Linked DNA regions of Homo sapiens. The protein of the gene in region 2 purifies or fractionates together with the protein of the main gene of each other region. This does not show direct contact. Each region holds a gene or a part of one and is shown on either strand. Other genes may lie near its edges. The genes, in order: ETS1, PIAS4, ZNF644, SLX4, TXNDC9, SIMC1 and SETX.

Region 1 (3,500 bases), on a different chromosome or scaffold from region 2:
AATAGTGTAAGTTAGAAAACTTGTACACACTTTTTCAGTGTAAACCCCTCTTTTTACAAATGAGGAGAAAGACTAAGGCGATGCTGCTAATTGGCCAAGCTGAGACCAGACTCCTGGTCTTCAGCCTCCTCCTGTGCTTAGAGAAGATGCTTCTCTAGACCTTTGTTACCCAGCGTCCAAATCATTTTTGCACCCAAACAGGTCTCATGGATGCTGCTTAGCTGGGGAGTAAATCTTCAGATGCCACAGTTGCTTTGCATTTATGCAATAAACGTGTGCAATGCTAAGAAAAAAATTGGTGCAGCTGATGTTCAAGCAGTTGTCACGTGGGAGGGAATTCTCTTCTGCCAAAAAGCCAAAAAAAAAAAAAAGAGAGAGAGAGAGAAGATGCTTCTCTAAGCACCCTCATCACCCTGGATGGCGAGGACAGAAACAAGCATGAGATGGAGAAGACAAAAAAGTCAACACTTTGGCTTATGTGGGTGTCTCATGTCCAAAAAATCACTTTAAAACTATGGTTCTGCTTGATTCTAGAGAGTTCTATTCTTCATAGAGCGAGTGACCACTTCTCCAACTTCCCACCCTCCCCAAACTGGCAACCCGGCCAGGACCTGTAGGCTCTCACTTCCTTTCACCCAAAGCTTGCCAGGGCAGGGCAGGGCAGGTTGAGAGACACAGAATAAAGGAAAAATTAGGGAGGAGAGGGACTGTTCAGGCCAAGGCAGCAGAAGAACAAGAAATCCCAAAGAGACCAGGCTTGAATCAAGGCTGAATCCAGTTCACATCAACTCTGACCCTGCTTGGCTGTATTTCTAGATAACTTTGACATCAGTTAAGCCTTTTTCATTTGGGGTTATGTATTCCTAAAAGAAAAACTACGCTTTTAGGTAAATACCAAGTAAATTACACTTTAATTTTTTTCTTTTGAAAACAAAATTCTTTTGAAATCAGCAGTTTTTGCCAAACTAATACAATGTTACCGCAAAAATTAAAATACAAAAAAGTAACAGATGGATATTAGAATCACCTGAAACCTCACCATGTAGAGATAATTATACTAATAATTTGTTCAATATTCTTCTGGGTATTTTTTAATCTATCTAAACGAACATAGATGTCACACACACACACGTGATTACAATTTTACCTTCATGAGATTATTCTCCACATGTTCTTTTGTAACCTGCTTTGTTCACTGACATTTAACATAATGCTATGGACATTTTTCTCTGTTGATAAATGTGGCTGTCTATCCTAAAGATGATGACTGCCAAGTATTCTATTGTATGTATATATCATACTTTTAAAGAGCCTCTTATTATCGTATAATTAATTTGTCCCCAATTCTTTGTCATTATAAAAATTCCTAAAATATTTTACATTCCCACTAAATGCCGAAAAAGAGCATTTTGGGGACAAAGAAAATATGCATTCCATATTTGAATACATATTGACTAACTGCATTCTATAATAGACCAGCCAAAATTAGACTCCCACTGACAAAGGCATCATGTTTTAAATTTCAACTTGCCCTCTCGTCTTCATGTTAGCTTCATAGGCAATGAATTATGGTTAAAACATATCCTGGGTATGAAGATGGCACATGGGGAATTCAAAAGCACAATAAAGCTGTGGCAGAAAATGTAGATTTCTCCCCACCACCCCTCACCCCAGCCTTTCCTCTTTGAAAACAATGCAAAATTTGAATAGATTTCCAATGAGCATTTATCCTAATGTCAATAATTTAGGATTCCTATCAATTCAAACAAAAAGCATGTCCTTTTGGCTTGGAATACAGGAGACAAAGAATTTGGCTTCCAGGGCTGGGCTCGGTGGCTCACGCCTGTAATTCCAGCAATTTGAGAGGCCGAGGCAGGCGGACCACCCAAGGTCAGGAGTTCAAGAGCAGCCTGACAAACATAGTGAAATTCCATCTCTACTAAAAATACAAAATTAGCCAGGTGTGGTGGTACATGCCTGTAATCCCAGCTACTTGGGAGGCTGAGGCAGAAGAATCGCTTGAGCCTGGGAGGCAGAGGTTGCAGTGAGCCGAGATCTCGCCATTACACTCCCACCCGGCAACAAGAGCAAAACTCCATTGAAAAAAAAAAAAAAAAAAGAATTTGGTGTCCAAAACAACTAACCATGTAAAAAAAACTTGCTCCAAACAACAGCACTTTTGCCAAACTAAAGGCAACACCTGGGCTACCAAGGCAACATCTTTAATCTACAATGTATAGAGTTTTAATTTCTTTTTTCTGAATACTATAGAAATGTATTTTTGAAGACTCAGAGTATCTCCTCTTTCAGGAAGCTTTCCCCTCCCCCCTACCCTCTTTGGCAATTGCATGGACCTCCTTGATGCCCCTCCATGGGATTTACTGTAACGGTGTAACAAAGTTCATGACACTTCCTGTATCTATGCCTGTTTCTGCTCCTGAATGATGAGTAACTTGAGAGTAAGGATGGTGTCTTTTCAGATGACACATAGTAGCCATGCAACAAGTGTCTGTTTACTAAATGAGGGAAAGTACCTAAAGTACTTGAAACAGAGTTGGTGTGTACAATCCTTGTGCGTCCTGAGCTTATCCAAGAGAGTAAGTTATCGTTTGGACATTAAAAAAAAAAAAAAAAAAAAAAAAAATCCCTGTGATGAAGTGTGTCCTTGTGTGACCCTGAGGTTAGGCTTCTCAAGAGTTAACTACAAGCAAGATGGCACTTTTCTCTAAACTATAGGATGTACCAGATTGATGAGTTCATCTATACTCCTTCAGTGTGTTCTTTCTGATTCTCATGAGTAGCCCACGTGTATTTCCCAAATCATTTGAGTAGATGTCTTCCCTGACCTGTCACTGTAACAAAAGCTCCCAAATCCAATTCTCTAAGAACTCAGGTTTAAGATCCATCATATCTAGGAAAGCTGAACATTCCTTACTCCCCATGGAAACTTTGTGGTTACAACGCATAGAAAAGAAAAAGGATTAGAAGAACTGAAGATGGTTTTTCTGTCTCACTACTAAATCTACAAGAACCTCATTTGCTTGACTAAGTAATCCAACATTACAGTAGTAGTGAATATTCCTTCTTATTTTAAGTAGCCAGCACTGACAAATGAAGGCTGTGTTCCAAATTATGGGCTACTGTCTTCTGTGTCTTAAGCTAAGTGCATTTATTCTTTCACTAAGGTTACAGAGCAGCAACTCACAGTACAATTAACATCTCAGTCTTTGTTTCTTCACAACTTCACTATAATTATTCCGCCAACCCTTGCTTAAATGGAAATGAGTCATATCCATCTCCTATTTCTCTAAAAATAAACCCATCTCCTAATTAAGCATAACACTTTCAAGTCCTGTATGAATTGACATAGCTCAACGAATCCTTCTTAGAATATTAAAATGAACTCATGTCATTATAATTTTAAAGAGTATATTGTTTTACCCTTCCTTGAGGAGTAACTCGCTACTATCTCCTGAAAAAGAGAAAGACTAGAAGATGTT
Region 2 (3,500 bases):
TCAGTGCTTGCAGACAAAGACACGAGAGAGAGAAGCGTGGAGCCCAGCACCTCTCCTCCGCCTGGGATCGCCCTGAACCCCCAGCACGCCCGGTGCACACAGCCTGGCAGTGACCTGAGCCCACTGACCAAGGACACTCCTGCAGGCTGCCAGCGAGGAACCAGAGCCCGGGGGAAGGATGCCACTGGCCAGCCCCCTTTCCAAGGGGAATAAGCAGGGAAACCAGGCTCCCAGGTGGCCCTGGTCACCCCTGGCCCTGGCAGTCACAGCCTGGTGTGGTCCCTGCATGCGCCACAGAGTCTGTGTGAGCAACGGACTCTGTGGGGGAGATGGCGAGGCGTGTCCGAGGTTGGGTTATAAAAAGGGCTCCAGCTCCCAGCTTGGAGGTGCACACTCGCTACCCTAGGGTGAGGGAGCCACCAGGCTGAGGACGCCCAGGCAATCCGTGCAGGAGTCCGCACCATGAGGACCTGGGGACTGTGGCCAAGAGCTGGCGAGGAGCTGAGGCCTGCCAGCCACCACACAAGGATGTGCCTGCTCCAGCCCTGGTCGAGCCTCCAGATGAGGTGGCTCCAGCCTGACTGAGCCTCATGAGAGCCCCCAAGCCCCAATGCCCCGCAACACAGCTCACAGGTTCCTGAGAGCTAACAGACGCCCCCTGCTTCCAGTGGCTCCATTTCGGGGTAACTTGTAACACAGCAAGGGGTGACCAATATCAAAGATGGTCCCTTTGCTTCCGAGGAAGGACACCCCTGGCCACTGTGGCTCCCCGCCCTGGCTGCGCCACAGAGAACATCACTCGAAGTCGGCTGTGTGGCTGGGCTGGGCTGGGCGACGGGGCCTAGGTGAAGCCTCCAGTCGCAGCCTCCCCAGGGTGACCACTCACCTAATTCGGTGGGCTTCAGCAGCTCATCCAGCATATTAAAGAACGGCAGCTTCACCAGGCGGACTTCTGGCTTGAGGGTCTTGGCGGGCAACCGTCCCAGTCCGTTTAAGTACTTTCCGTAGAGCACGGGGTAGTCAATATTGGGGCCTGCCAGCGGAGTCCTGGGCACAGCGCCGGCCCGGTCGTAGGTGGAGTGCATGGTCAGGGGGTCCAGGGGCCGGTGCGGCTGTGGGGCAGGCTCCGAGTTCTTCTTGGCGTAGCGGGTCTCGTACAGCTCCTTGATCTTCTTGAACAGCTCAGGGCTACAGTCAAACTGCACCAGCTGGAGGGCCCTGGTGACGAGCTCGTGCTTCAGTCCACTCTTACTCCGGCCCACGAAACCCAGGAGCATCTGAAGGTCGGAGACTCGAAAACTCATCACCATGTTCTGAGGAGGAGCAAGCACACACACACTCAGAGGACACAGCTGCGAGGCAGGGGACTCCATGGAGGCCAGGCCCCGATGTGGGGGCCGTGAAAGACACCCACTCGCCAGGAAGCGCCAGCCTTGGCTGGGGCTGGTGGAGTGCCCTGCCCCTACGGTGCCCCCTCCCAGCAAAGCCCTGCCCCCTCCCTCCTCCTCATCAAACTTTCCCCAGCATCGCCAACGCAGCAAAAGCGCCTCTGACTAGGCCCCCCCTTCTATTTTAGGTTCTCTTTCCCTGTCTTCAGCCTGAAAGCATCCCCAGGGCAGGAACTGACAATTGTGCTTTACTTGTAAACAGCCTCTGCCAGTGCCTTACCGGCAAACACCAAATGCCTCTCTGACCCTCAGTCTCTACGTCGGGAGGATAATGACATAAAGCACTGGCTGGGCGGGCGCTCAACCCATGTCAGCCACAGATATGTTTTCCCTTCGGTCTCGCCAACGGTAGCCACAGTTTACTTAGTACTAATCACCTGCCGGGAACCAAGCCGGTCATGTGATTATATATTTAACTCTGATCCTTAAAACACCCCTGCTAGGCTGGTGTGTGAGCTCTGTCACAAATGAGGAACTGTCGGCTCAGAGGTGGCAGCGCCAAGATTCGAACCCAGGCCTGGCTCTGAAGCCAGGGGCGGTTCTTGCTGCCACACTACCCTCTGGATGTCAACACAGGGCTGGGCCTGTGGGGGCCTCCGAAACATCTGCTGATCATCCCAGGCAGGGTTTCTCCTCCTTGGCCCTGTGGACACTGGGGCCATCCTGGGCTCTGTGTGGTGCTAAATACCCACAGCTCACGACAACCAAACACACCTCCACACCCCACACACCTCCACACCCCACACACCTCCACACCCCACACACCTCCACACCCCACACACCTCCACACCCCACACACCTCCACACCCCACACACCTCCACACCCCACACACCTCCACACCCCACACACCTCCACACCCCACACACCTCCACACCCCACACACCTCCACACCCCCCACACCTCCACACCCCACAGCTCCACACCAAACACACCTCCACACCCCACACACCTCCACACCCCACACACCTCCACACCCCACACACCTCCACACCCCACACACCTCCACACCCCACACACCTCCACACCCCACACACCTCCACACCCCACACACCTCCACACCCCACACACCTCCACACCCCACACACCTCCACACCCCACACACCTCCACACCCCCCACACCTCCACACCAAACACACCTCCACACCAAACACACCTCCACACGTTGCCCTGAGTCCCTGGGGGACCGGTCCAAGGGGAAGATAGCAGCCACAGGGGCTGTTGCAGGACCTGGGTCAAAGCGACAAATGAGGCTTGGCAGGACCTGGCCCTCATCGCCTGGCCGGGCCTCTCCAGCGAAATAAAAACCAAACAGCAGAGCCCAGCTGACCCTGGTGTTTGAGGTGGGGTAGACTGGCAGTGGCCTGACCTCCATGAGGGGTAGGACCCTGAAGGGGAAGGAAGGCTCCTCAACAGGCTGCAGAAGCCAGGTGTCCTCGAGGGATGGGCTGGCAGGGTTTCAGGGCCACCCACCCTTAGCCCTGAAGCTGGCCTGGGATGAATGAGATGTGGTGGGAAACAGTAGCTTCCAGGAGGAATGGGGAGAAAGCTCAAGCGTCAAGGGTGTTAAGGAAAGCTGGCGGGTACCCGAAGAAACCAATAAACCATTCAAACTCCACTCGAAAGACCCTGAGGGTCGAAGCCAGAGGCAGTCCCAGTGGGGTATGTAAACTGCAGCCTCCGTGCCAGGAGGCGCTGAGGTTTCCGGCTCCTGGCTGCCCCAGGGTGAGACCAGGAGCCTAGCCGCACATTTCAGCACCAAAGCTGCAGCAGCCGGGGCCCACTGTCGGGTCCTCATCTGTCAGCTCTGATTTCTTCCAGCTGTATCGGGCCAGGGTCCTGTTGGAGACGGAGAGGCTGTCCAGGCTCAAAATGACAGGGACACACGTGCAGGCGGCCCAGCCCTGCCCAAAGAGCCTCGGGAGAAGCCTCTTCCCATATCAGGGCTGCGGGGCCCCGTGACTGTAAAGAATCGGGATGCCAGCGTCTTGCTCCCTACCAGGCACCAGCAAGGCCTGTGTCGCTAATTTCACAATGAGGACACCCATCGTGTA
Region 3 (3,500 bases), on a different chromosome or scaffold from region 2:
AAGTCATAAAACTAACCTCTAAAGGATTACTATTAATGAACACTAAGAAGCACCTCTCTGATTTTGTCACTGGGGGGAAAAAAGGGCCATAGTACCAAATATCACCTGATTTACCTCCCAATTCATAACAATGCCAAACAAGGACAGAAGAAAAGAGAGATGGATTCAAGCATCAATTCTCACTACCCTTGGGAGGGAGGACAAATATGCCATAAGAAGTTTAGAAACAAAAACTCCAGCCCGGGCAACATGGTAAAACCCTATCTCTACTACCGAAAGAAAAAAAAAAAAAATCAGCCAGGCATGATGGCATGCACCTGTAGTTCCAGGTACTCAGGAAGCTGAAGGAGGAGGATCGCTTGAGCCTGGGAGGTGAAGGCTGCAGTGAGCTGAGATTGCGCCAATGCACTCCAGCTAGGGTGACAGACTGAGACCCTGTCTCAAAAGAAAAAAAAAGGAAGGAAAAGAAAAAGAAACAAGCAAAAACTAATTTATGGTGATAGAGGTTAGAGGTTAAAATAGTGGTTACTTCTGTAGGGAGAAATTAATAGGAGGGAGCACAAGGCACCTTTAATCAGTGAAGAAAAATATTCTACATCTCTATCTGGGTATTTCATTTAAAATAGGCTCTAATCACGGAAAATGCTTGCATTCCACAATTCTCATGTCTGTGCTTTTTTTACATCCTCTTCTCCCCAGGTGTAACCCAGTACCTCCCACTACCTGGGAGTTACCTAGGTATACTTATATGTATAAATTCACTGAGTTGTACTTAAGATTTGTGCACTTCACTGTATGTTATACCTAAAAAAAATACTTAAAAACAAGTAACCAATTAATAGCTAAATCTAAAAACCTTTTCTCAATTCTCATCCTTCTTTATCAATCTCCATCATATTGTTAATCACAGAACATCAATATTCCCTAAATGAAACACTTTCCCTTTTGAAGATCGACTAGGCTTTGTTAGGATGTTTTTTCCAGCATTTTCTGTAGTGTCATATTAATTCTCTCTAAATATTAATTCAATATTTATCTTTTTTCTTTTGTTTTTTGGAGACTGAGTCTCACTCTGTCGCCCAGGTGGGGATGCAGTGGCATGATCTTGGCTTACTGCAACCTCCGCCTCTCATGTTTAAGCAATTCTCCCGCCTCAGCCTCCCAAGTAGGTGGCATTATAGGTGCACACCACCATGCCCAGCTAATTTTTGTATTTTCAGTAGAGACGGGATATTTCATCATATTGGCCAAGCTGGTCTCAAACTCCTGACCTCAGGCGATCTGCCGACCTCAGCCTCCCATAGTGCTGGGACTACAGGCATGAGCCAATGCACCCAGTTAATTCAGTATTTATCAAGTGCTCATGTATGAGACACGAATTAGGCACCCTCCAATATATATTTCCAATCTCTCTCTCACACACACACACACACACACACACACACACATACACACACACACACACATATACACACCCAAACCAAATTCCCTAAACTGGATTCAAGCCACTCTATTACCTGGTATCAAACTGTATTTGCTGTTTTAATTCCTATCACTTCTTTATGGGAATATTCTTCTCAAGCATTTTCTGTTCTCAGCTATCCTTTACGGTTCAGTTCAATTTCTATGTTATTCTTTCCCTATACCCCATAGGACTTACTATCTGTAATTGCACTGTCCAATACAGTAACTTCATGTGGCTACTGAATACCTGAACTCTGGCTAGTCTGAATTGAGATGTGCTTTAAGTATGTAATACTAACAGATTTTGAAGACTTAACATGGTTAAAAAAAGAAAAAATGTAAAATAGTTCAATCATGTTTATATGATGAAATAATAGTATTTAGATACTGGGTTAAATAAAAATCCATTAATAAAATTTCACCTATTTATTTTATTTTTTGATGTGGCTATAGAAAATCTAAAATTGCATTTGTGGCTCAACTTATATTTCTATTGGGCAGTGCTGACCTATACAATCTATTTATAAATGCCCACAAATTACCTTTTTCTTCTTCTTCTTCTTAAACTGATAAATACAAATTGTATATATTTATGGTGTACAACACATTTTGAAATACATATAAATTATGCAATGGTTAAATCTAGCTAATTAACACATGCATTACCTCACATAGTTATATTTTGTGGTGTGAACACTTAAAATGTACTCTCCTAGCAACTTTCAAGTATGCAATATTAACTATAGTTACTATGCCCCACAAATTATCTCTTAACATATAATGTCATCTTCCCGATGAGTGCCAGAATTCAACATTAAGCTTTTTTCTTTTATGAATTAAATATTATATTAGGAATTACTAATAGTAATTAAGTGCCATTTAATTTTAATATCCCTTTAAGATTTTTAACAAGGAAGTGTAAGGCATTTCAAAGTGTTCAAATATTAAAAAAAAGTTGTTTTCAGATAGCTATAAATTATACAATTTTTCATCTATATTTTACTTATATACAATTCTAAGTCAAATGTCCCACCAGCAAGGATAGATAGCATGATTAAACCTGTAGCAATCCAAATCCCATAAAGTATTAGTTCTGATTAAGCCTGATTTTTTTCATCTTAGTCACTCAGTAAAGGGCAGCATCCATTTTGGTCAACATCATTGTACCAATGTCCAGCAGCCAAGACAAAGAGCCTTTATATGGTGGTATGAATAGACAATGAGAGCAATACGACACCACTTGAAATAAGGGGGGGGAGAAAAATGTTTTTATAATGCTAAGTTTTAAAACTAGGAGATGAAACTTACAAATTGTGTAACAACTAGGTAAAAGGATATATATGTAAGAAGAACAGGAAGGTAGAACAGAAAGGTCTCCTCTCTAGACCTTCTCAAGATATACCTAGGTTCAAACTTGGCTACTCCATTATTAAGTGGATGTGTTTCCTCACATGTAAAGTGGGAATATATACATCACAGGATTATTAAAAGAATATAGTAGATGCTTAATTAACGTCATCTGTCTTTAATACTAATAATTATATAATGGTAATAAGATTATGGGTGACTTCCCCTCCCTCACTTTCCAAATTGCTGTATTTTTCAAGCATAAATGAAAAACTTACAATTTCATACTAGTACCCCTCCTCAAATGAACCTAAAATTATTTTTACTAGCTGTCTTTGACAAATTTGCTTATAAGCTTAAAATCCGTGTTTGTGCTAGGAGGAGGTTGGTGGTAGAAAGAAAATTAAAGAGGGGGAACTGATAACTTTAACACCATACCAGCACAGACATATACAAAACAAAGTGTGGAGAGGAAAAGAGCAAAAGGAAATGCTGTTTGGGAAATTCCCAACTCAGACTATCCAATGAAAAGATTATATTCCACCCGCCTCAATCTAGCTACCTACCAGCCACTCCTCACTCTCATCTTGGGTTTATACGTACATTACAAATACGCATAGCCACTCACCTTCTTCTCTCTACTAATAGTCACCACATGGCCTCACAGTCAAAAATTGAAAGGAGAGTGA
Region 4 (3,500 bases), on a different chromosome or scaffold from region 2:
AAACGTGAATGAAGCAGAAATGGAAGAAATTTATGAATTTGCAGCTACTCAGCGAAAGCTTCTCCAGGAAGAAAGGGCAGCGGGTGCCGGCGAGGACGCTGACTGGCTGGAGGGTGGCAGTCCGGTTTCTGGGCAACTCCTAGCAGGTGTCCAGGTGCAGAAACAGTGGGACAAGGTGGAGGAGATGGAGCCGTTGGAGCCAGGAAGAGATGAGGCCGCCACCACCTGGGAGAAGATGGGACAGTGCGCTCTCCCGCCACCCCAGGGCCAGCACTCAGGGGCACGGGGAGCAGAGGCCCCTGAGCAGGAGGCGCCAGAGGAGGCGCTTGGCCATTCCAGCTGCTCCAGCCCTTCCAGGGACTGCCAGGCAGAGAGAAAAGAAGGCTCTCTTCCGCACTCAGATGATGCCGGGGATTACGAACAGCTCTTCTCATCAACTCAGGGAGAGATCTCAGAGCCGTCCCAAATAACAAGTGAGCCCGAGGAACAAAGTGGCGCTGTCAGGGAAAGGGGGCTGGAGGTTTCTCATCGCCTGGCTCCCTGGCAGGCATCTCCACCGCACCCGTGCCGCTTCCTATTGGGGCCTCCCCAGGGCGGGAGTCCCCGCGGGTCTCATCACACAAGTGGGTCGTCCCTGTCAACACCCCGGTCCCGTGGCGGAACTTCCCAGGTGGGCTCCCCAACCTTGCTGTCTCCAGCTGTGCCATCAAAGCAGAAAAGGGACAGGAGCATCCTCACGCTGTCTAAAGAGCCAGGGCACCAGAAAGGCAAAGAGCGTCGGTCCGTGCTGGAGTGCAGAAATAAGGGGGTCCTGATGTTCCCAGAAAAATCTCCGTCTATTGACCTAACCCAGTCAAATCCTGACCATTCGAGCTCCAGATCTCAGAAATCTTCATCCAAACTGAACGAAGAAGATGAGGTCATCCTCTTACTGGACTCGGATGAGGAGCTGGAGCTAGAACAAACCAAAATGAAGTCCATTTCTAGTGATCCTCTGGAAGAAAAGAAAGCTCTAGAAATTAGCCCTAGGTCCTGTGAGCTGTTTTCCATCATTGATGTTGATGCAGATCAGGAACCTTCCCAGAGCCCACCAAGAAGCGAAGCTGTGCTGCAGCAGGAGGATGAGGGGGCGCTGCCGGAGAATCGGGGCTCTTTGGGCAGGAGAGGGGCTCCCTGGCTGTTCTGTGACCGTGAGAGCAGCCCCAGCGAGGCCAGCACCACAGACACCTCGTGGCTGGTGCCCGCCACCCCGCTGGCCAGCAGAAGCCGTGACTGTTCTTCCCAGACCCAAATCAGCAGCCTCAGGAGCGGGCTGGCCGTGCAGGCGGTGACTCAGCACACGCCCAGGGCCTCAGTAGGAAACAGGGAAGGGAACGAAGTCGCACAGAAGTTTTCTGTCATCAGGCCCCAGACACCACCGCCCCAGACACCGTCCTCATGCCTCACTCCCGTCTCTCCAGGAACTTCTGACGGCAGAAGGCAAGGCCACAGAAGCCCTTCCCGTCCCCACCCCGGGGGCCACCCGCACTCCTCTCCGCTGGCTCCACATCCCATCTCAGGGGACCGCGCCCACTTCAGCAGGCGGTTCCTGAAACACTCGCCGCCTGGGCCAAGCTTCCTGAACCAGACCCCAGCGGGTGAAGTGGTGGAAGTCGGAGACAGTGACGATGAGCAGGAGGTGGCCTCCCATCAGGCCAACAGAAGCCCCCCACTGGACAGTGACCCCCCAATTCCAATTGACGACTGCTGCTGGCACATGGAGCCCCTCTCGCCAATTCCCATTGACCACTGGAACCTGGAGCGGACCGGCCCCCTGAGCACCAGCAGCCCCAGCCGCAGGATGAACGAGGCCGCCGACAGCCGTGACTGTCGCTCCCCGGGACTCCTGGACACCACCCCCATCCGAGGAAGCTGCACTACCCAGAGGAAATTGCAAGAGAAGTCCTCGGGCGCGGGCTCCCTGGGGAATAGCAGGCCGAGCTTTCTGAATTCGGCTCTGTGGGACGTTTGGGACGGGGAAGAGCAGAGGCCTCCAGAGACCCCTCCTCCGGCCCAGATGCCAAGCGCTGGTGGAGCTCAGAAGCCCGAAGGGTTAGAGACACCCAGTGAGTAGCCAGGAGAGCTGGGGAAGGGGACTGTCTTTGTTACTATTTTACACTAAGAGGGTGGGAAGATCAGTCATGAGACCCAGGGGCTGCCCTCTGAATGCCTGCTGACCTGAGGCATGACACTTCCGCTGCCTTCCAGACTCCCCTCCACAGTGGAGGAGAGCCGGGCTGGTTCTCATGCTACACTTCTCAGCCAGTAAGTCAGTGTTTCCCAAACTTGCCTGGCTCCAGTGCTCACCTGGGCATGTGTTAAAAATCCACATCTGTGGACCCTTCTCCAGAACACGGAGCCGGCACCTCCAAAGGCCACAACTCATTCAGCAAGTATCGGCATGCCTTAAGATTGGACCAGGGTGGTTCTCCAGAATGTTAACCGTAGATTGACTGCAGGACCCAGCAATTCCACTTTTACCTGTATATCCAAAAGAATTAAAAACAGGGACTCAGACATGCATGTTCATAGAAGCGCTGTTCACAATCGCCAAAAGCTGGAAGCAACCCAAATGCCCGTCAGGAGATGAACAGGGAAACCAAACGTGGTCCATCTAGACCACTAGAAAATGGAATAGTGTTCAGCCACAAAGAGGAGTGAGGCACTGCCACACGCTACCGCGTGGACGACCCAGAAAACATGCTGCCGGGTGAGAGAAGCCAGACATAGAAGGTCATGTACTGTCTGCACTCATGGATATGAAATGTCTAGAATAGGCAAATCCAGAGAAAATGCAGGTTAGTGGTTGGCCTGGGTTGGAGGGAGGGGGAATGGGGAGTGACTGCTTATGGGATACAGGGTGTCCTTTTGGGGTGGTGAAAATGTTTTGCAAATAGATAGAGGTGATGGTTGTACAACATTGTGAATACTTAATGCCACTGAATTATTCCCTTTACGATTTTTTTATGTGAATTTCACCTCAATTAAAAAAAGAATCAGGTGGGACAAGTGTGAGAGGCTGTTAGGCCTGTTCTTCCTGGTCCTCCCAGGTGCAGGGATGCCACCTCCCTGCTCATTTCAGTCCCCGGGGAGAGTCAGAGCCCCAGGTGTCGGCCCCCTCGGTGCTGCTGCTCCCATCCAGGCACCTCCGGGGAGGGCAAGGACAGGCCGGGCTGGGCTGAGCATGACTGGGAGAAAGGCCAGGCTGTGAGTGAGCACCTGCCTGCGGCCTGGGGGCCCATTTCCTCCCAAAATCCAGATGAATGAGGCCACTGATAGTGTCCTCGGCCCTCAGGGGCTTCAGAAACACCTGGAGAGCTTCTTATAGCACGCCCGTGGCCCAGCCTGCCCCAGAGCCTTGCTTCGGGAGGGTGACTAAGAATTTGCATTTCTAACCAGTTCCCAGGCAGTGCTGTGAGAACAGCTGCAGGAGGCTGCACAGCAGATCTGAGGTGGGCTTC
Region 5 (3,500 bases), on a different chromosome or scaffold from region 2:
TCACTGCAAGCTCCGCCTCCCTGGTTCATGCCATTCTCCTGCCTCAGCCTCCCAAGTAGCTGGGACTACAGGCGCCTGCCACCATGCCCGGCTAATTTTTTGTATTTTTAGTAGAGACGGGGTTTCACTGTGTTAGCCAGGATGGTCTTGATCTCCTGACCTTGTGATCCGCCTGCCTCGGCCTCCCGAAGTGCTAGGATTACAAGCGTGAGCCACTGCACCCAGCCTACCAGTAGTAACTTTTATTAAGCCATCTTCCAATGAAGACGGAAACAGAAGTGAGATTTTCTTGGCCAGGTGCGGTGGCTCACATCTGTAATCTTGGCACTTTGGGAGGCTGAGGCAGGCGGATCACTTGAAGTCAGTAGTTTGAGACCAGCTTAGCCAACACGGTGAAACCCTGTCTCTACTAAAAATACAAAAATTAGCTGGGTGTGGTGGTGCATGCCTGTAGTCCCAGCTACTTGGGAGGCTGAGGCAGGAGAATCACTTGAACCTGGGAGGTGGAGGCTGCAGTGAGCCGAAACTGTGCCGTTGTACTCCAACCTGGGCAACATAGTGAGACTCCATCTCAACAAACAAAAAAAGTGACATCTTCTTTACATTAAAATTTATTTTCTGGCCTGATGCAGTGGCTCACGCCTGTAATCCCAACACTTTGGGAGGCTGAGGCGGGCAGATCACTTGAGGCCAAGAGTTCAAGACCAGCCTGGTCAATATGGTGAAACCCCATCTCTACTAAAAATACAAAAATTAGCTGGGCGTCATGATGGGCACCTGAAATCCCAGCTACACAGGAGGCTGAGGCACGAGAATCACTTGAACCTGGGAGGTGGGGGTTACAGTGAGCTAAGATTACACCACTGCACTCCAGGCTAGGCGACAGAGTAAGACTCTGTCTCAAAAAATTCATTTTCAACTGGCCAATTCACGAGTGTTTCTAAAACAGACTATTGTAACAATCTTTTAGACCGGTGGTTCTTAACCCCAGGTGTTCATTATGATCAACTTTTATTTATTCATCTTTTTTGAGTTGGACTCTCACTCTGTCACCCAGGCTGCAGTGCAGTGGCGCGATCTCGGCTCACTGTAATCTCTGCCTCCTGGGTTCAATCGATTCTCCTTCCTCAGCCTCCCGAGTAGCTGGGATTACAGGCACCTGCCACCACGCCCGGCTAATTTTTGTATTTTTAGTAGCGATGGGGTTTCACCATGTTGACTAGGCTGGTCTTGAACTGCTGACCTCAAGCAATCCACCTGCCTCAGCCTCCCAAAGTGCTGGGATTAGAGGTGTGAGCTACCACACCCAGCCTGCCGTCAACTTTTAAAATATCCAGATGAATCAAAATTCTCTGGCAGTGGAGTTGGGAAACATACAGCTGTTCTTATGCTCAAATAAAGCTTGAGAACTACCTCTAGATGACTCACACACAAAATACTTCATGGTTATTTTTACCAGTAAGCTTTTTGTGCACTTGATGTAGTTTTTCCTGAACTAAGTTTGGCTCTAACATAAGTTATGTGTAACCTTGGTGCCTCATCACTTTTTCCCCGGATATGTTTTTTCATATGTTACTCATGTAGTTCAGTAACGAGATTTCAGTGAAAAATGGTAAGAGAGAACAAATTAATAAATGGTTTTTAAATAAAGCTCAAAACAAATGATAAATCAACCTTTATATGAGAAATATGTTCCTGAAAATTTGTAAATAAATCAACTCCATACTTTAACTGCAGTAAGGAACGTATTTTTTTTTTGAGATGGAGTCTCGCTCTGTCGCCCAGGCTAGAGTGCAGTGGCACGACCTCTGCTCACTGCAACCTCCACCTCCTGGGTTCAAGCAATTCTCCTGGCTCAGCCTCCTAAGAAGCTAGGATTACAGGCACCCGCACCATTGCCTGGCTAATTTTAATTTGTATTTAAAGAGCAAGACAGAGTGTCTTGCTCTGTTGCCAGGCTGGAGTGCAGTGGCACGATCTCAGCTCAATGCAACCTCCGCCTCCCAGGTTCAAGCAATTCCCCTGCCTCAGCCTCCTGCACAACTGGGACTACAGGCACGAGCCACCATGCCCAGCTAACTTTTTGTATTTTAGTAGAGATGGGTTTTCACCATGTTGGCCAGGATGGCCTTGATCTCCTGACCTCATGATCCACCTGCCTCAGCCTCCCAAAGTACTGGGATTACAGGCATGAGCCATGGCGCCCAACCCGTCAATCAATTTTTAAAAATCCAAAACAACAGTCATGGTATAAATAGCTATAGGCCTTTACGTATGTTTAAAAATAACTAAAAGAGCATAATTAGATTGTTTATAACACAAAGGATAAAAGCTTGAGGTGATGGATATTCCATTTACCCTGATGTGATTATTAAACACTGCATGCCTGTGTTAAAATATCTCATGTACCCCATATTTACCTACTACTACCCACAAAAGTTAAAAATTAAAAAAATAGCAATAGGCTTAAAACATGGGTTCCAATCTCTCTCTTTTTTTTATCATTTAGTATCTGAGTGATACTAGGTGAGTCAATTTCTCCAAATCTTGGTTTCCATACATGAAATACAGGAATAATAATAAGTGCCTCTGAAGATTATTGTGAATGTTCTAGGGATAATATACATGAAAGCATCCTGCCTACTATGTGCTAGGAACTTTGCTAATATATAAAGTTCACTGGATGATTTTGATTTTTCAGTTCTGTTTGAAGGTGAGTACTCCTGGTGATGCACTGTTTATACACCATCAAATGTATTTATTGACCACCTACTATGCGTCAGGCAGTTGCTTTAGGGCTATGATCCCAGAGAACAGTAGGTCACAATACAGGCAAATGCGCTGCCTCTACAAAACGAACAATCTAGTTGGGAAAGACATAAAAAAAACAAGTGAGGCCGGGTGCCGTGGCTCATACTTGTAATCCCAACACTTTGGGAGGCCAAGGTGGGTGGTTCACCTGAGGTCAAGAGTTTGAGACCAGCCTGGCCAATCTGGAGAAACCCTGTCTCTACTAAAAAGACAAAAGTTAGCCGGGTGTAGTGGTGGGTGACTGTAGCCCTGGCTACTCGGGAGGCTGAGGCAGGAGAATCACTTGAACCCGGGAGGTGGAGGTTGGAGTGAGCCAAGATCCTGCCATTGCACTCTAGCCTGGGTGACAGTGTAAGACTCTGTCTCAAAAACAAAAAAAAACAACAAAAAAAAAACAAGTGGACAAATAATATTTTACATACTAGTATATTTATATATCACCTCATCATATTTGTCAGAGGTTGGCAACTTGAGGAATGTGTGCCAATGCGAGATGGTTGTGTACCATAAGGGCAGAGGTTTCTCTGATACCTTTCTACCTGCCTAATCCCTTCTCTCACTGTTCCTCACAAGGGATTTCACCATCTCAATATTTTGTTTCATTTTTATTCTCTTAGTCAATGAATACCAGGCAATCAATTCTTGAAAGGTGTTAACTAACAATGAAGCTGTTGGGTTGTGAGATCAAG
Region 6 (3,500 bases), on a different chromosome or scaffold from region 2:
CATGGTAAAACCCTGTCTCTACTAAAAATATAAAATTAGCTGGGCATGGTGGCACATGCCTGTAATCCCAGCTGCTTGGGAGTCTGAGGCAGGAGAATCACTTGAGCCAGGTAGGTGGAGGTTGCAGTGAGCTGAGATTGCGCCATTGCACTCCAGCCTGGGCAACAAGAGTGAAACTCCCTCTCAAAAAAAAAAAAAAAAAAAGGAAAAAAAAAAAGAAACATTATAACACTGCAACAGAAAAATGGGCAAAGGACAAGCATAGGGAATTTGCACACATACCCTATGTGTTTCCAATAAACATAAGCAAGATGTCTGGCTGTACTGCATGTGAGCACACTCCTTTATCTCCAACCTCACTAGCTGCTCTTCCTCCCTTGGGACACTATGGTGTTCCCTTGGGCTAGGTTCTGGATGTTCTTCCTCTTGTCACCTCAACCTAGATGATTTTATCCAGGTCAATGACTTCACTATAACCTATGCGCTAACAAGACTAAATTTGTATCTCTAGTCAGGACTTTTCTTCAGAGCTCTAAACTCAGTACAAATGTTATACTTGGCATCTCCAGTTGGCTATTCCACAGGCATCGTTAAGTTTTATACCTTCAAAACAGAACTCTTGAATCTTTCCTCTAACCCTGTTCCTCCCAAGTCTGCTTCATTTCAATGCATGACACCAACATGCATTCAGTTGCTCAAGCCAGAACTCAGGGCATCCTTCTTCATTCCTTCCTTTCCCTTGTTATCCACATCCAAGTTATCAGGACCTGTTGATTTTATTTACTAAATATCTACATCCCTCCACTCTCCCAGTCTGTACCACCACTCCAGTCCAAGCTACAGTTATTTCTGACCTGGACTACTACAGCCAACCTTCTAACTGATCTCCCTAATTTCACTCTTCCCCTCTTACAGTAGGGTGACTACACTTCTGCTTTGTTTGGGACAGTTCCAGTTTTCACCTGTTGCTTGACATCCTGGTCCAGTTAGCATCCCTTTTCATTTGCAAAAGTTTCCCAATTGGATGATAAATTATATGGTCTCCCTACCTTACCATCTTTTCTTTTCACAGTAGCTAAAGTCATCTCTAAAAAATGTAAATCAAGGCTAGGTGCAGTGGCTCACGCCTGTAATCCCAGCACTTTGGGAGGCCGAGGCGGGTGGATCATGAGGTCAGGAGATCTAGACCATCCTGGCCAACATGGTGAAACCCCGTCTCTACTAAAATACAAAAAATTAGTCAAGCGTGGTGGTGTGCTTGTAGTCCCGGCTACTCGGGAGGCTGAGGTGGGGGAAATTGCTTGAACCTGGGAAGTGGGGGTTGCAGTGAGCCGAGATCGCACCACTGCACTACAGCCTGGGCAACGCAACAGAGCAAGACTCCATCTCCAAAAAAAAAAAAAGTAAATCAAATCATGTCACTGTCCTGCTTAAACCTTCAAAGATTTCTTACTGTATTACAATAAAATCCAAATCCCTTATTGTGGTCTCCAAAGCCCTATAACCTAACCTACCTACTTCTCATCTCTTCTGACTCTGTCCATCAGTCGTTACATTGCAGCCTCACTGGCTTTCCATTCTTCCAGTAAGTCATGCTCATTCCCGCCTCCAAACTTTTGGTTTTGTTGTTCCCTTTGACAATGCCTTATTCATCTAGATCTTATAACTAATTTGTTGTCATTTTAGTCTCAGGTCAAATATTAACTCTTCAGAGAGGCCTTCTCTGAAAACACAATCAAATGTTCCCAATCCCACCAAAGTTACTATTATACTGTTCTCTTATTTGTTAGTTTGTTTACTGCCTATCTTTCCACAGTAGAATGTAGTTCCATTATCATCTTGTTCACCTCTGGTCCCCAGGGTTACAGCATATGCTCAATAAATATTTATTGAATAAATGAATCATAATAAAAAAATAAAAAATAATGACATCTTATGGAATCTGGCTATCAAACAGCAAAGATTAAAAGAACAAAAATACCGTATTTTTTCCCCTAACACTCTGTATTATCACCTGACATTACATTTATAGTGTTGTTTACTATCTGTGTCCCCTCAGTAAAATGAAATCTCCATGACGGCAGGGACTTGGTTTTCATAGATGTATTCCCAGCACCTCTAAGAGTGCCTGGTATATAATAAGTGTTCAATAAATATTTATGGAATAATGTAACAATACCTAGGGGTGACTAGGCAGCAGAGAAAGAGATATGATTGGCCATATACCACTGGTAAGAATATTAATGCACAATTTCTGTAGGAAATTTGGCAATACAGTTGATTCATGAACAACACAGGTTTGAACTGCATGGGTCCACTTACAAGAGAGTTTTTTTCAATAAATATATTGGAAAATTTTTTGGCGATTTATAACAATTTGGAAAACTCACAGATGAACTCCACAGCCTATAAAAATTGAAAAAAACTAAGAAAAAGATATGTCCTGAATGCATAAAATATATGTAGATACTAGCCTATTTTATCCATTTACTACCATAAAATCAACACAAATCTATTATACAAAGTTAAACTTTATCAAAATTTATGCACACAATCACTTACTGACCATAGATGGTGACATCTGCAGTTGACAGAAATGTAAAGATGCAATATTAACTCACAACTGCATATTTTTAAATTCATTATTTTTTTCTTTTTAATTTGTATCACAACTGCATAAAATTTACCATAGACTACACTGTACTACCGTGATAATAATGTCCTACTACCACAGACATCTGCTGCTGCTGTGGTGGGCTCAAGTGTTGTGAGGATCCACTTAAAACGCCACGTGACACTAATCAATTTCTGCACTACTTCCCAGTAAACTGTGTATCACGGTAACAAGTGTTCTCTCCTGGGTTTTTTTCCACATATACTTGTTTAATCATGTGTAGGGTAATATCGTAAACCTTGAATAACACCATGAAACCCATACAAAGTGCTTAGTGATGCTGGATGTGCTCTCAAGAAACAGAGAAAAGTCATGACATAAGAAAAGCTGAATCGCTTGAGATGTACCGTAGATAGAGGTCTGCAGCTGTGGTTGTCCCCTATTTCAGACAGATGATTTATCTTGTAAACAGACGATGTAAACCTATGGTATTGACAAATGCAGTATAGTACTGTAAATGTATTTTATCTTCCTTATGATCTTAACATTTTTCTCTTGCTTACTTTATCGTAAGAGTCCATATAACATACAAAACATGAGTTAACTGCTTATGTTACTGGTAAGGCTTCCAGTCAACAGTAGGCCACTGGTAGTTAAGTTTTCGAGGAGTCAAATGTTACATGTAAATTTTCAACTGCACGGGGGGGTTAGCAACCCTAATCCCCGTGTTCTTCAAGGGTTAGCTACATATAAAGTAGGGCACACCTTTTGACTCAGCAATCTAACTTCTAAGAGGAACTTAATAAACAAATGAACAAGAGTACAAAGATTATGAGGGAATTTTTCACTGGGTTCTTAGAGAAAATTTAGAAACGAAGGCATAATA
Region 7 (3,500 bases), on a different chromosome or scaffold from region 2:
ATAAGCCATGCCATAGTGGTTAATGAAAATTACTACAGAATAGCATTTCCCAACCAGGGGTGATTTTATACCTCACCCCCCAAAAGGGGTATTCAGCAATGTCTGGAGACATTTTTGGTTGTCACAAAGGAGATAGGGAGTGCTAGCGGCATTTAGTAGACAAAGGCCAGGGATGCTGCTACACATCCTACAATGGACGGCACAGCCCACAGCAAAGGATTATCCAAAATGTCACCAATGCAAGGCTGAGAAACCCTGCCACAGACATACTACAAGAATGAAAATTATTATTATTACTATTTTTTAAGACAGAGTCTCTGTCTGTCACCCAGGCTGGAGTGCAGTGGCACAATCTTGGTTCACTGCAACCTCCGCCTTCCAGGTTCAAGTGATTCTCCTGCCTCAGCCTCCTGAGTAGCTGGGATTACAGGTGCCTGCCACCACACCTGGCTAATTTTTGTATTTTTAGTAGAGACAGGGTTTCACTATGTTAGCAAGGCTGGTCTTGAACTCCTGACCTCAGGTGCTCTGCCTGCCTCAGCCTCCCAAAATGATGGGATTACAGGCGTGAGCCACCATGCCCGGCGAGAATGAAAATTATTAATAATTGAACAAAGAGGTGAACAGATACGTAATAAAGCAAATATAGCAAAATGTTAACAACCGTATAAACTATGTGATGGGTATATCATGTTCACTGTATAATTTACTTTTCTATGTTAAAAAATTTTCACAATAAAATGTTGAGAGCCAGGCATAGTGGCTCGTGCCTATAATCCCAGCAATTTGGGAAGCTGAGGTGGGAGGACTGCTTGAGCCCAGGAGTTCAACACCAGCCTGGGCAACAGTGAAACTTCATCTCTACAATAAACACAACATAAAATTAGCTGGACGCAATGGCACACGCCTGTACTCCCAGCTACCCACAAGGCTCAGGCAGGAGTATTACTTGAGCCCAGGAGGTAGAGGCTGCAGTGGGCCATGACTGCGCCACTGCACTTCGGCCTAGGAGACACAGCAAGACCCTGTCTCTAAAAAAAAATAAAAACAATCTTCAGTTACCCTCTGAACAAGATAAGTTTGAACTGTGCCCCAAAAATAGGTATTTTGTGTTTGAACTCAAAAAATAAAAAACGTTGGAAAAAAAATGAAGTCCTAATTATATATCCTAATTATATGTTTAGCAAACAAATTTGCAATATAGATAAGCCTAAATTCTTATGGTACTAAAATAATAAAACTGATATAACTTGAGGAACCATCAAGATACTCACTAACACGTTCATGTAGAAGCAAGTAAGGATATTTCAGTATTTCAAGAAGAGGAACTCGAAGCTTATTTTCAAAGTCTTGCCCAGTGATGTCAAACAGTGGCATCTCTCCATTATTGTCTACTATATATAACTCATCATCATCTCCAATTTCTGCCTTCATGGATTTTTCAAAGTGATTTATGAGACGTAAGGTTTCTAATTCCCATAAAACCTAGAGGAAAATAAAATGGGCAGTGTGCGTTATGTCTTATCATCAACAAAATACACTGAATGTGACGACCTAGAAAGCCTTTTCCTAAGTACAAAAATTCTGAAATGTAAAGTATTAGAGCTTGTATTTTAGATTTAAAGAAAACTATTCAAATGTGGCCACTTTTATGAAAAGTGAGTACACAGAGTATGAGATATTGGCTAGGCACAGTGGCTCACAGCTGTAATCCCAGCATTTTGGAAGGCTGAGGTAGGAGGACTGTTTCAGGTCAGGAGTTCGAGACCAGCCTGGGTAGCAAAGCAAGACCCTGTCACTAAAAAAAAAAAAAATAGAAAAATTAGCTAGGTGTGGTGCATGCCTACAGTCCTAGCTTCTCTGGAGGCTGAAGCAAAAGGATCACTTGAGCCCAAGAATCTGAAGCTACAGTGAGCTATGATTGTGCCACTGTACTCCAGTCTGGATGACATAGGGAAACCCTGCCTCTAAGAGAAAAAGAAAACAGGCCAGGCACACTGGCTCCTGCCTGTAATCCCAGCACTTTGAGAGGCTGAGGTGGGCGGATCACCTGAGGTCGGGAGTTCAGAACCACCCTGACCAACACGGAGGAACCTCGTCTCTACTAAAAATACAAAAATAGCCAGGCGTAGTGGTGCATGCCTGTAATCCCATATTCGGGAGGCTGAAGCAGGAGAATCGCTTGAACCCAGGAGGCGGAGGTTGCAGTGAGCCAAGATCACGCCACTGCACTCCAGCCTGGGCAACAACAGGGAAACTCCATCTCAAACAAAAAACCAAACAAACGAAAAAAAACAAGAAAACAAAAAATAGTATGCTATGTTTAAACACTTTTTATTTTTTTTTGAGACAGAATCTCGCTGTCGCCCAGGCTGGAGTGCAATGGCGTGGTCTCAGCTCACCGCAACCTTGGCCTCCCAGGTTCAAGCGATTCTCCTGCCTCAGCCTCCTGAGTAGCTGGGATTACAGGCGCCCACCACCACGCCTGGCTAATTTTTGTATTTTAGTAGAGACGGACTTTCACCATGATGGCCAGGCTGGTCTCAAACTGCTGACCTCGTAATCCACCTGCCTCAGCATCCCAAAGTGCTGGGATTACAGGTGTAAGCTACAGCACTCAGCCTTAAACACTTCTCTTGTAGAAGTTTTCTATAAATATCTCAACATCCCTATCAACTACATTCAAAAAAAAAAAAAAGAGAAGCTGGAGCCTCTCTGTCAAATGCAAAACCGAGGCCCTTCTATGTCTTCCCTTCTATGTTCTAGCCATAGCTAACTACCTTAGTGCAGCTTGTGGTATAAAAGACGCTGGATAGCTTCATAATTAGAAAACTTTATAAAGTGCACGTTTCTCAACACAAGTCCATTACTAATCATCCTCTCCTCTATATACTGTATATATCTCTATGGTCTACGTTCTGTTTTTCATCAATAAATAAACCAAATATTCAAAGCCAAATATTTAGAATTATATCTTTCACTTTTGTTATCATGACTGGAAAATATGCTTGCCCTTAAAGGTTTATGCCATTTGCCCATTAAAAAAAGAAAAAAAGAAGTTATTATTACCAATTAAAAAAAAAAAACCCTGGCCAGGCGCAGTGGCTCACAGCTGTAATCCCAGCACTTTGGGAGGCCGAGGTGGGCAGATCACCTGACGTCAGGAGTTTTGAGACCAGCTGGGCCAACATGGTAAAACCCCATCTCTACTAAAAATAAAAAATTAGCCGGGTGTGGTGGCACGTGCCTTTAGTCCCAGCTACTTGGGAGGCTGAGGCAGGAGAATCGCTTGAACCCACCTGGGAGGCAGAGGTTGAAGTGAGCCAAGATCACGCCACTGCACTCCAGCCTGGACAAGAGAGTGAGACTCTGTCTCAAAAAAAAAACAAAACAAAAAAAAAACAACCCACTAACAAAAACCCAGGCCATTCAGATACTCAGATACATGCATGTATTATAGCACTGACCAAAAAATTATGAAACAAATCCCCTCCCAATGA

The links.
Region 1: the proteins of PIAS4 (region 2) and ETS1 purify together in Homo sapiens (affinity purification with western blotting; 2 studies listed by BioGRID). This does not show direct contact.
Region 3: the proteins of PIAS4 (region 2) and ZNF644 purify together in Homo sapiens (affinity purification with mass spectrometry; one large-scale study listed by BioGRID and IntAct). This does not show direct contact.
Region 4: the proteins of PIAS4 (region 2) and SLX4 purify together in Homo sapiens (affinity purification with mass spectrometry; 2 studies listed by BioGRID and IntAct, with this or other methods). This does not show direct contact.
Region 5: the proteins of PIAS4 (region 2) and TXNDC9 purify together in Homo sapiens (affinity purification with mass spectrometry; one large-scale study listed by BioGRID and IntAct). This does not show direct contact.
Region 6: the proteins of PIAS4 (region 2) and SIMC1 purify together in Homo sapiens (affinity purification with mass spectrometry; one large-scale study listed by BioGRID and IntAct). This does not show direct contact.
Region 7: the proteins of PIAS4 (region 2) and SETX purify together in Homo sapiens (affinity purification with mass spectrometry; one large-scale study listed by BioGRID and IntAct). This does not show direct contact.

What each region holds. Positions count from the first base shown.
Region 1 is NC_000011.10:128,577,559-128,581,058, forward strand, and holds part of ETS1 (protein C-ets-1), read right to left. Parts: intron 1-3,500. UniProt on the Homo sapiens protein: Transcription factor. Directly controls the expression of cytokine and chemokine genes in a wide variety of different cellular contexts. May control the differentiation, survival and proliferation of lymphoid cells.
Region 2 is NC_000019.10:4,010,736-4,014,235, reverse strand, and holds part of PIAS4 (E3 SUMO-protein ligase PIAS4), read right to left. Parts: intron 1,314-3,500; coding exon 887-1,313; intron 1-886.
Region 3 is NC_000001.11:91,012,036-91,015,535, forward strand, and holds part of ZNF644 (zinc finger protein 644), read right to left. Parts: intron 1-3,500.
Region 4 is NC_000016.10:3,587,607-3,591,106, reverse strand, and holds part of SLX4 (structure-specific endonuclease subunit SLX4), read left to right. Parts: coding exon 1-2,105; exon of another isoform or gene 2,106-2,837; intron 2,838-3,438; exon of another isoform or gene 3,439-3,500. UniProt on the Homo sapiens protein: Regulatory subunit that interacts with and increases the activity of different structure-specific endonucleases.
Region 5 is NC_000002.12:99,322,834-99,326,333, forward strand, and holds part of TXNDC9 (thioredoxin domain-containing protein 9), read right to left. Parts: intron 1-3,500. UniProt on the Homo sapiens protein: Significantly diminishes the chaperonin TCP1 complex ATPase activity, thus negatively impacts protein folding, including that of actin or tubulin.
Region 6 is NC_000005.10:176,241,424-176,244,923, reverse strand, and holds part of SIMC1 (SUMO-interacting motif-containing protein 1), read right to left. Parts: intron 1-3,500.
Region 7 is NC_000009.12:132,344,987-132,348,486, forward strand, and holds part of SETX (probable helicase senataxin), read right to left. Parts: intron 1,486-3,500; coding exon 1,275-1,485; intron 1-1,274. UniProt on the Homo sapiens protein: Probable RNA/DNA helicase involved in diverse aspects of RNA metabolism and genomic integrity.